Linked DNA regions of Homo sapiens. The protein of the gene in region 1 interacts with the protein of each later gene in a pairwise test. Each region holds a gene or a part of one and is shown in the gene's direction. Other genes may lie near its edges.

Region 1 (3,810 bases):
CCTTGCAGCCTGCTGGGTGATGGTGGGGGAAGGGCTATCTTGGGTGACTCCCCGCTCCTCCAGGTACTGGATCTCCGCCTTCCCAGCGGAGTTTGACTTGAACCCGGAGTTGGCTGAGCAGATCAAGGAGCTGAAGGCTCTGCTAGACCAAGAAGGGAACCGACGGCACAGCAGCCTAATCGACATAGACAGCGTGTGCGTGGGGGGAGCACAGAGGGCTGGGGGGGCACTCAGTATCCTATACCATCTGTGCTTAATAAATGTCTGTTGAACTGAATGAGTGAGGGTCATGTTGCTCTCTCGCTTAAAAACCTTCCATGGCTCCCTATTGCCTTCAACATGCCTCCTCTGGGCAGCTTGGCGTTCCTGCCTCATCTTCCACTGCCACCACCCATCCCACACACCTCCTCCTGTAGCTGCGCTGGGTCGGCTCCCCGTCGGCTGAGCTCTCGAGTCCTTTCTCATCATGGTGCTCTGCTCATATCATCCCCCTTGCTGCCTCCTCCGTGTTACCAAGACTCAGTTCAGGCATGAAGTCTCCGTGGGCTCTGAGGGTTCGGGGCTCTTCCGGGGTAGAATTTGTCGTTCCCACCTCTGTTTTCCATGGCACTTTGTACAGACTCCTGTACAAAGACCTCTGTACATGTGTCACGCTGTTTTGTGATCATGTGTTTCTGTGTCTGTCTCCCTCAGTAGACTGTGAGCTCCTCGAGGGCAGGAACCGTGTCTTACTCATCTCTGTATTCCCAGCGCCTAGCACAGTGCCTGGCACAGAGTACGTTGTTCATAAATGTGTGTTGAGTGCATGACGGGGTCGGGGGAGATGAGGAGGAGTTGCTGGGACTGGGAACATTCGTGCCTAGGACAGTGCCTCGCATTATGTAGGTTCTCAGTAAGCGTGAATGGTGTGTCTGTGTGAGTGGGGGGCCACGAGTCATGCGCATGTCCAGCAAAGGGCTCACTACCCCTGCCCCCCCAGCCCTACCTACAAGTGGAAGCGGCAGGTGACTCAGCGGAACCCTGTGGGACAGAAAAAGCGCAAGATGTCCCTGTTGTTTGACCACCTGGAGCCCATGGAGCTGGCGGAGCATCTCACCTACTTGGAGTATCGCTCCTTCTGCAAGATCCTGGTGCGGCCCGAGGGCTGGGGGGTCAGGGGTCCAATGTGGGCTGGAAGAGAGTTCTAGGAGGGGCAGGGTCCCTGGCGTAGGCTGGGTCACAGGGTGCATCAGGGGTTTCAGTGTAACCACTGAAGGTCAGCTGGAGGGTGAGGAGTGGCTATCAGTGAGGGGAGAGGCCAGCAAGGTGCTGAGGCCACTCCTCATGCCCCCAGTTTCAGGACTATCACAGTTTCGTGACTCATGGCTGCACTGTGGACAACCCCGTCCTGGAGCGGTTCATCTCCCTCTTCAACAGCGTCTCACAGTGGGTGCAGCTCATGATCCTCAGCAAACCCACAGCCCCGCAGCGGGCCCTGGTCATCACACACTTTGTCCACGTGGCGGAGGTGCCTGCCCCTCCCTCCCGGTGTCTCCCAACCACCCCACATGCCAGTCAGGCCAACCCTTCCCTTCCCCTAACCCACTGCCTTCTCTCTAGATAAGCTGGGCCAAATTCTGGGCCCACTCAGTGACTCCCTGCCTCTCCGTCCCCATTTGCCTTCCAGAAGCTGCTACAGCTGCAGAACTTCAACACGCTGATGGCAGTGGTCGGGGGCCTGAGCCACAGCTCCATCTCCCGCCTCAAGGAGACCCACAGCCACGTTAGCCCTGAGACCATCAAGGTGCCTGGGACTGGGGAGGGGCCGGTGCTTCCCAGGTCTGTCTTCACTGGGTCCTCCCAGCAGCACTGGGGGCTGGGCACAGCTGTCCTCATTTGATAGATATGGAAATGGAGGCTCAGAGGGGTTAAGTGCTTTTCTCAGTTTGCACAATGGCAACAGCAGAGTGGGGGCTCACAGGTCGTCAGGGACCCCAAAGCTAGTACTTTTTTTTTTTTTTTTAAGACAGGGTCTCTCTCTCTGTTGTCCAGACTGGAGTTCAGTGGTGCAGTCACAAGCTCACTGCAGCCTTGAACTCCTGAGCTCAATCGATCCTCCCACCTCAGCCTCCTGAGTAGCTGGGACTACAGGTGTACGCCACCATGCCTAATTTTTGTATTGTTATTAATTTTTTTTTTTTTTTTTAGAGATGGGGTTTTGCCATGTTGCCCAGACTGGTCTTGAACTCCTGGGCTCAAGTGATCCGCCTGCCTTGGCCTCCCAAAGTGCTGAGATTATGGCTTGAGCCATTGTGCCTTGCCACTTGTAGTTTCTTCTTTTCTTTCTCCTTCATTTTTTATTATTTTTGAAGTATTTTGAAGTATTGAGTAACATACATATAGAAAAGTATATAAAAACATATGAGACTGGGCGTAGTAGCTCACACCTGTAATCCCAGCACTTTGGGAGGCTGAGGTGGGCAGATCACGTGACATCAGGAGTTTGAGACCAGCCTGGCCAACAAGGTGGAAACCCATCTCTACTAAAATACAAAAATTAGCCAGGCATGGTGGCACGCACCTGGAATCCAAGCTACTTGGGAGGCTGAGGCAGGAGGAGAATTACTTGAACTCAGGAGGCGGAGGTTGCAGTGAGCCAAGATTGTGCCACTTCACTCCAGCCTGGGCGACAGAGTGAGACTCCATCTAAAAAAAAAGAAAAGTATATAAAAACATATGAATAGTTTAAAGAAAAATTGTAAAGAAAACACTGTGTAACTACTGCCCGGGTTGGGAAATAGAACCTTGCCAGGCCCCCAAGCGCCCAGCACTTTAGAGCATAACTCCCTCCCCACGACTTTTGCAATGATGATCTTGCTTTTCTTTATAGCTTCACCATGTAGGTATGCGGTCCAAAACAATGTGGGGCTTTTTGTTGTCTGTTTTGAACTTTCTATGAATGGAATGTTGTTTGTGTTATTTTATGTCTTGCTTTTTTCATTCCACATGGTTCTGAGAGTCTTTTCATTCTGTCATGTGGAGCAATTGTTTTTTCATTTTCATTGCCATATAATATTTTATTGTACGTCTACCCCAATTCATTTATTTATTTATTTTTTTGAGATGGAGTCTGTCTCTGTCATCCAGGCTGGAGTGCGGTGGCGAGATCTCATCACTGCAACTTCCGTCTCCTGGGTTTACGTGATTCTCGTGCCTCAGCCTCCTGAGTAGCTGGGATTATGGGCTCGTACCACCACGTCTGGCTAATTTTTTGTAGAGACAGGCTTTCACCATGTTGCCGAGGCTGGTCTTGAACTCCTGAGCTCAGGCAATCCACCCGCTTTAGCCTCCCAAAGTGCTGGGATTACAGGTGTGAGCCACTGCCCCCAGCCTACCCCAATTTATGTATTGATTCTATTGTTGAATGTTGGGGTTTTTCCTTTTCTTTTCTTTCTTTCTTTTTCTTTCTTTTTTTTTTTTTTTTTGAGATGGAGTCTTGCTCTGTCGCCAGGCTGGAGTGCAGTGACGCTAATTTGGCTCACTGCATCACTGCACCCTCTGCCTCCCGGGTTCAAGCGATTCTCCTGCCTCAGCCTCCTGAGTAGCTGGGACTACAGGCATGCACCACCACACCCGGCTAATTTTTGTATTTTTTTAGTAGAGATGAGGTTTCCACCATGTTGGCCAAGATGGTCTCCATCTCTTGACCTCATGATCCATCTGCCATGGCCTCCCAAAGTGCTGAGATTACAAGTGTGAGCCACCACGCCCAGCTGGTTTTTCCAGTTTTTGCTGTTTGGACGGGGTGGCTGAGTATGTTCTTCCAGGTCA
Region 2 (3,810 bases), on another chromosome or scaffold:
CCTCTTCCCTCTGCCCATCGGGCCCAGGCCAGGATGTCCTGCTGTCCTGCTGTCCTTGACATGGCGCTGGGGGGCAGGTCTGTTCCAGGAGAAGCCCCACAGCCTGCAGAACAACATCCGGACGTCCCTGGAGAAGAAGAGGCGAGGCTCAGGGGTCCCCTGGGCTAGCCGGCCTGAGGCCACCCTGCAGGGTGAGCACTGGGGGTGGAGGGTGGGGAAATCCTCCCTGGTGCTAGGGTTGAAGGCCCTGTAAGGAGAGCAGATAAAATTCCTTCTGGATTCTCCTTCAAGAAGGAGATTGTGTGTTCCTGGTCACTGCAGAGGAGCTGGGGATGGGGGGTGAATTTGGGGCCCTCACCTCCCATCCCGCCAGGACAGTAGGCTCCCGCGACACCCTGGTCTGTGGTGCCCCCAGAGCCTCCCTGTGCACCAAAGCCACCCTGAGTGTCCAGGGGCAGAGGTGGGCATCCTGGGCCCTGAACACTGGCTTGTCCCTGCTGGAGTCTCCCTCAGAGGTGGGTGCTGGGTCAAGTGTACTGGGGGAATGAATGCCCCATCAGGCAGCTGTGTCTGTCCCTGTCACCCTATGGCACTGTTGCCACCTCTCTCCTACTACTGTCACTCCCAGCACCAGCCCTGTACCAACACTAGCACATTTTCAGCAGGATGCCCTCCATCACTGTCACCTCCGCTATCTAGTCCACCCCATCCCAGTGACTACCACCTCCCCCACCATCCCTACCACCCCATCCAGTGCCCACGACCTCCCCCACCATCCCTCCTACCCCATCCCTGTGCCCACCATCCCTGCCACCCCATCCCAGTGACTACCACCTCCCCCACCATCCCTGCCACCCCATCCCTGTGCCTACCATCTCCCCCACCATCCCTGCCACCCCATCCCTGTGCCTACCATCTCCCCCATCATCCCTGCCACCCCATCCCTGTGCCTACCATCTCCCCCATCATCCCTGCCACCCCATCCCTGTGCCTATCTCCCCCACCATCTCTGCCACCCCATCCCCGTGCCCACTATCTCCCCCACCATCCCTGCCACCCCATCTCTGTGCCCACTATCTCCCTCACCACCTCCCCCACCATCCCTGCCACCCCATCCTGTGCCCACCACCTCCCCCACTATTATTGCCATGGACCTGGTCCAGTAGAGAGGGGCACAGCCAGCATTTTGAGATGAGCCCAAGGCCAGGACTGAGCTCGTTAGTCGACAGAGCTGAGGGTGGGCTGCTCCAGGGTCAGGAGAAGCCAGTCGAGGTCAAGTCCACCCCTCTTTCATCCCTTATTTGTCCGTAGATTTCCCAGGCACCGTGTACATCTCTAAAGTGAAGAGTCAAGGCCACCCCGCTGTCTACAGGCTCTCCCTCAATGCCAGCCTGCCTGCTCCTTGGCAGGCTGTGTCGCCTGGGGATGGAGAGGTGCCCTCCTTCCAGGTGAGCCTGGGCTGTCGTGAAGTGAGCCGCCACCACTGTGGGTGGTGGGGGGCTCTCAGGGCCACACTGGTGGGCAGCCCTGGCCAATAGGGAGGGAGAAGCAGCTTTGAGGATGAAGACCCCCCTCCCCTAAACCAGCCATGTCTGTGACAGGGACCTGCCGAGTGGTAGCAGCGTGGGCTTCTGAGTCAGCCAGGCCTGGATTCAAATCCTGGCTCTGCCATTTATTAACTGTGTGTCTTTAGGCAGATTACTTACTCTCTGAGCCTCAGTTTCCTCATCTGTGACATGGGGATGCAACAAGCACCAGCCAGCATTGTTGGAGGGGTGTGAGGTGAGGCCTGTGCCGTGCAGAACGCCTGGGTGCAGTCCCTCCTCAGGCAGTGGCGGCCAGGAATCTTGCTGTCCTTGGTAGCTGCTCCAGCGCTGCAGAAAGGAGTCCCCGAGCCCAGACTTGAGTTTTCCCCTTCATGGGAGTCATTTGTGTTTCTTTTCTTTTTCTTGGGGGTGGGGGGAGGACAGGGGCTTGCTCTGTCACCCAGGCTGGAGTGCAGTGGCATGATCATAGCTCACTGCAGCCTCGACCTCCTGGGCTCAAGCGATCCTCTCTCATCAGCCTCCTGAGTAGCTGTGACCACAGGCACACACCACCATGCCAGCTAATTTTATCTTTTATTTTTTGTAGAGACAGGGTCTCTCTGTGTAGCCCAGGCTCATTTGTGTTTCTTTAACGTGGTACACACCCTCCATGGTGACAGGGACACGCGCCAATTCATTTGTTCAGGATTTATATTTCCATTTGGAAGATGAGGTCTCTGAGGCTTTTCCTGCCTCTAAGCCTCGCATGTGCAGTTCCCACTGCCTGAAAAGCTTTTCCTTCAGCTTCGTGCGTGGCTGACTCCTAGGTGCTCGTTCAGGTCTCAACATGCCTGTTGGTCCCCACAGAGCCCTGCCCCGGCGCCTTTCTCGCCTTGCCCTCCTCTCCCTGCCATTTATCCTGTCTTGTCTTCCTTATTCTTGGAAGCCATCATCATTGCCAGCTCCAAGAGGTCAGGGACCGTGCCCCTCAGAGCCTGGCACAGTGCCTGGCATGGGACAGACACTCAGTGAATGATTGTTGAAGGAAGAAACAAGGCTCAGAGAGGGAGGAAGGGATTTGCCCAAGTGCTGAACTCAAACCCAGGCCTCCCAAGCCTCTGCCCAGGGCTCTGTCCCCAACTCCGAGGACTGGGACAGGGTGAACTATGCCGAGGAGGGAGGGGACGGAGCCTGAGGCTGGCCCAGGCCGAGGCAGCCCCCCCGAGTCATGTGTCTTGTCTCTGTCAACCCACTGCTTAGGTGTATAGAGCGCCTTTTGGTAACTTCACCAAGAAGCTGACCGCTTGTATGTCTACAGTAGGGCTGCTCCAGGCGGCGAGCCCCTCCCGCAAGTGGATGCTGACGACCTTGGCCTGTGATGCCAAGCGGGGCTGGAAGTTTGACTTCAGCTTCTACGTGGCCACCAAGGAGCAGCAGCACACCCGGTAACAGAGCCTGGCAGACAAGCCGGTGCCCATCAGCCCGGCTGCTTCTTTGCCCTTTTCTCTCTTTTCTCTCTCTTTTCACATGAGGGATGCCAGCAGGCCCCCTCACTTTTTTTTTTTTTTCTTACTCTGTTGCCCAGGCTGGAGTGCAGTGGCACAATCTTGGCTCACTGTAACCTCTGCCTCCCAGGTTCAAGTGATTCTTCTGCCTCATCCTCCTGAGTAGCTGGGATTACAGACATGCACCACCACTGGTACCTGCTTAATTTTTGTATTTTTAGTAGAGATGGGGTTTTGCCATGTTGGCCAGGCTGGTCTTAAACTCCTGAGCTCAGGTGATTCACCTGCCTTGGCCTCCCAAAGTGCTGGGATTACAGGCGTGAGCCACTGCACCCAGCCCTGAGGGATGCCAGCAGACTCCTTTAAGAAACTGCTGGCCAGGTGCGGTGGCTCATGCCTGTAATCCCACCTCGGGAGGCCGAGGTGGGCGGATCACGAGGTCAGCCGATCGAGACCATCCTGGCTAACACAGTGAAACTCCTTCTCTACTAAAAATACAAAAAATTAGCCAGGCATGGTGGCACGCACCTGTAATCCCAGCTACTCAGGAGGCTGAGGCAGGAGAATCACTTGAACCCAGAGGCAGAGGTTGCAGTGAGCCGAGATCGCGCCTCTGCACTCCAGCCTGGGCAACAGAGCGAGACTCCATCTCAAAAAAAAAAAAAAAGAGAAAAAGAAACTGCTGTCCATTTCCACCTACCTGCTCAGATGGGTCTCTGCCCAGGGCTGGGGAGTGGAGAACATTGGCAAAGAGACGGGCCCGGGAGCTGCTCCCCACC

What was found.
Region 2: the proteins of RASGRP2 (region 1) and DISP3 interact in a two-hybrid assay, tested with the Homo sapiens proteins (one large-scale study listed by BioGRID and IntAct).

What each region holds. Positions count from the first base shown.
Region 1 is NC_000011.10:64,737,333-64,741,142, reverse strand, and holds part of RASGRP2 (RAS guanyl-releasing protein 2), read left to right. Parts: intron 1-63; coding exon 64-195; intron 196-693; exon of another isoform or gene 694-775; intron 776-979; coding exon 980-1,130; intron 1,131-1,333; coding exon 1,334-1,507; intron 1,508-1,666; coding exon 1,667-1,783; intron 1,784-3,810. UniProt on the Homo sapiens protein: Functions as a calcium- and DAG-regulated nucleotide exchange factor specifically activating Rap through the exchange of bound GDP for GTP. May also activate other GTPases such as RRAS, RRAS2, NRAS, KRAS but not HRAS.
Region 2 is NC_000001.11:11,523,865-11,527,674, forward strand, and holds part of DISP3 (protein dispatched homolog 3), read left to right. Parts: intron 1-77; coding exon 78-191; intron 192-1,311; coding exon 1,312-1,448; intron 1,449-2,786; coding exon 2,787-2,971; intron 2,972-3,810. UniProt on the Homo sapiens protein: Plays a role in neuronal proliferation and differentiation. Plays a role in the accumulation of cellular cholesterol. Involved in intracellular lipid droplet formation. May contribute to cholesterol homeostasis in neuronal cells.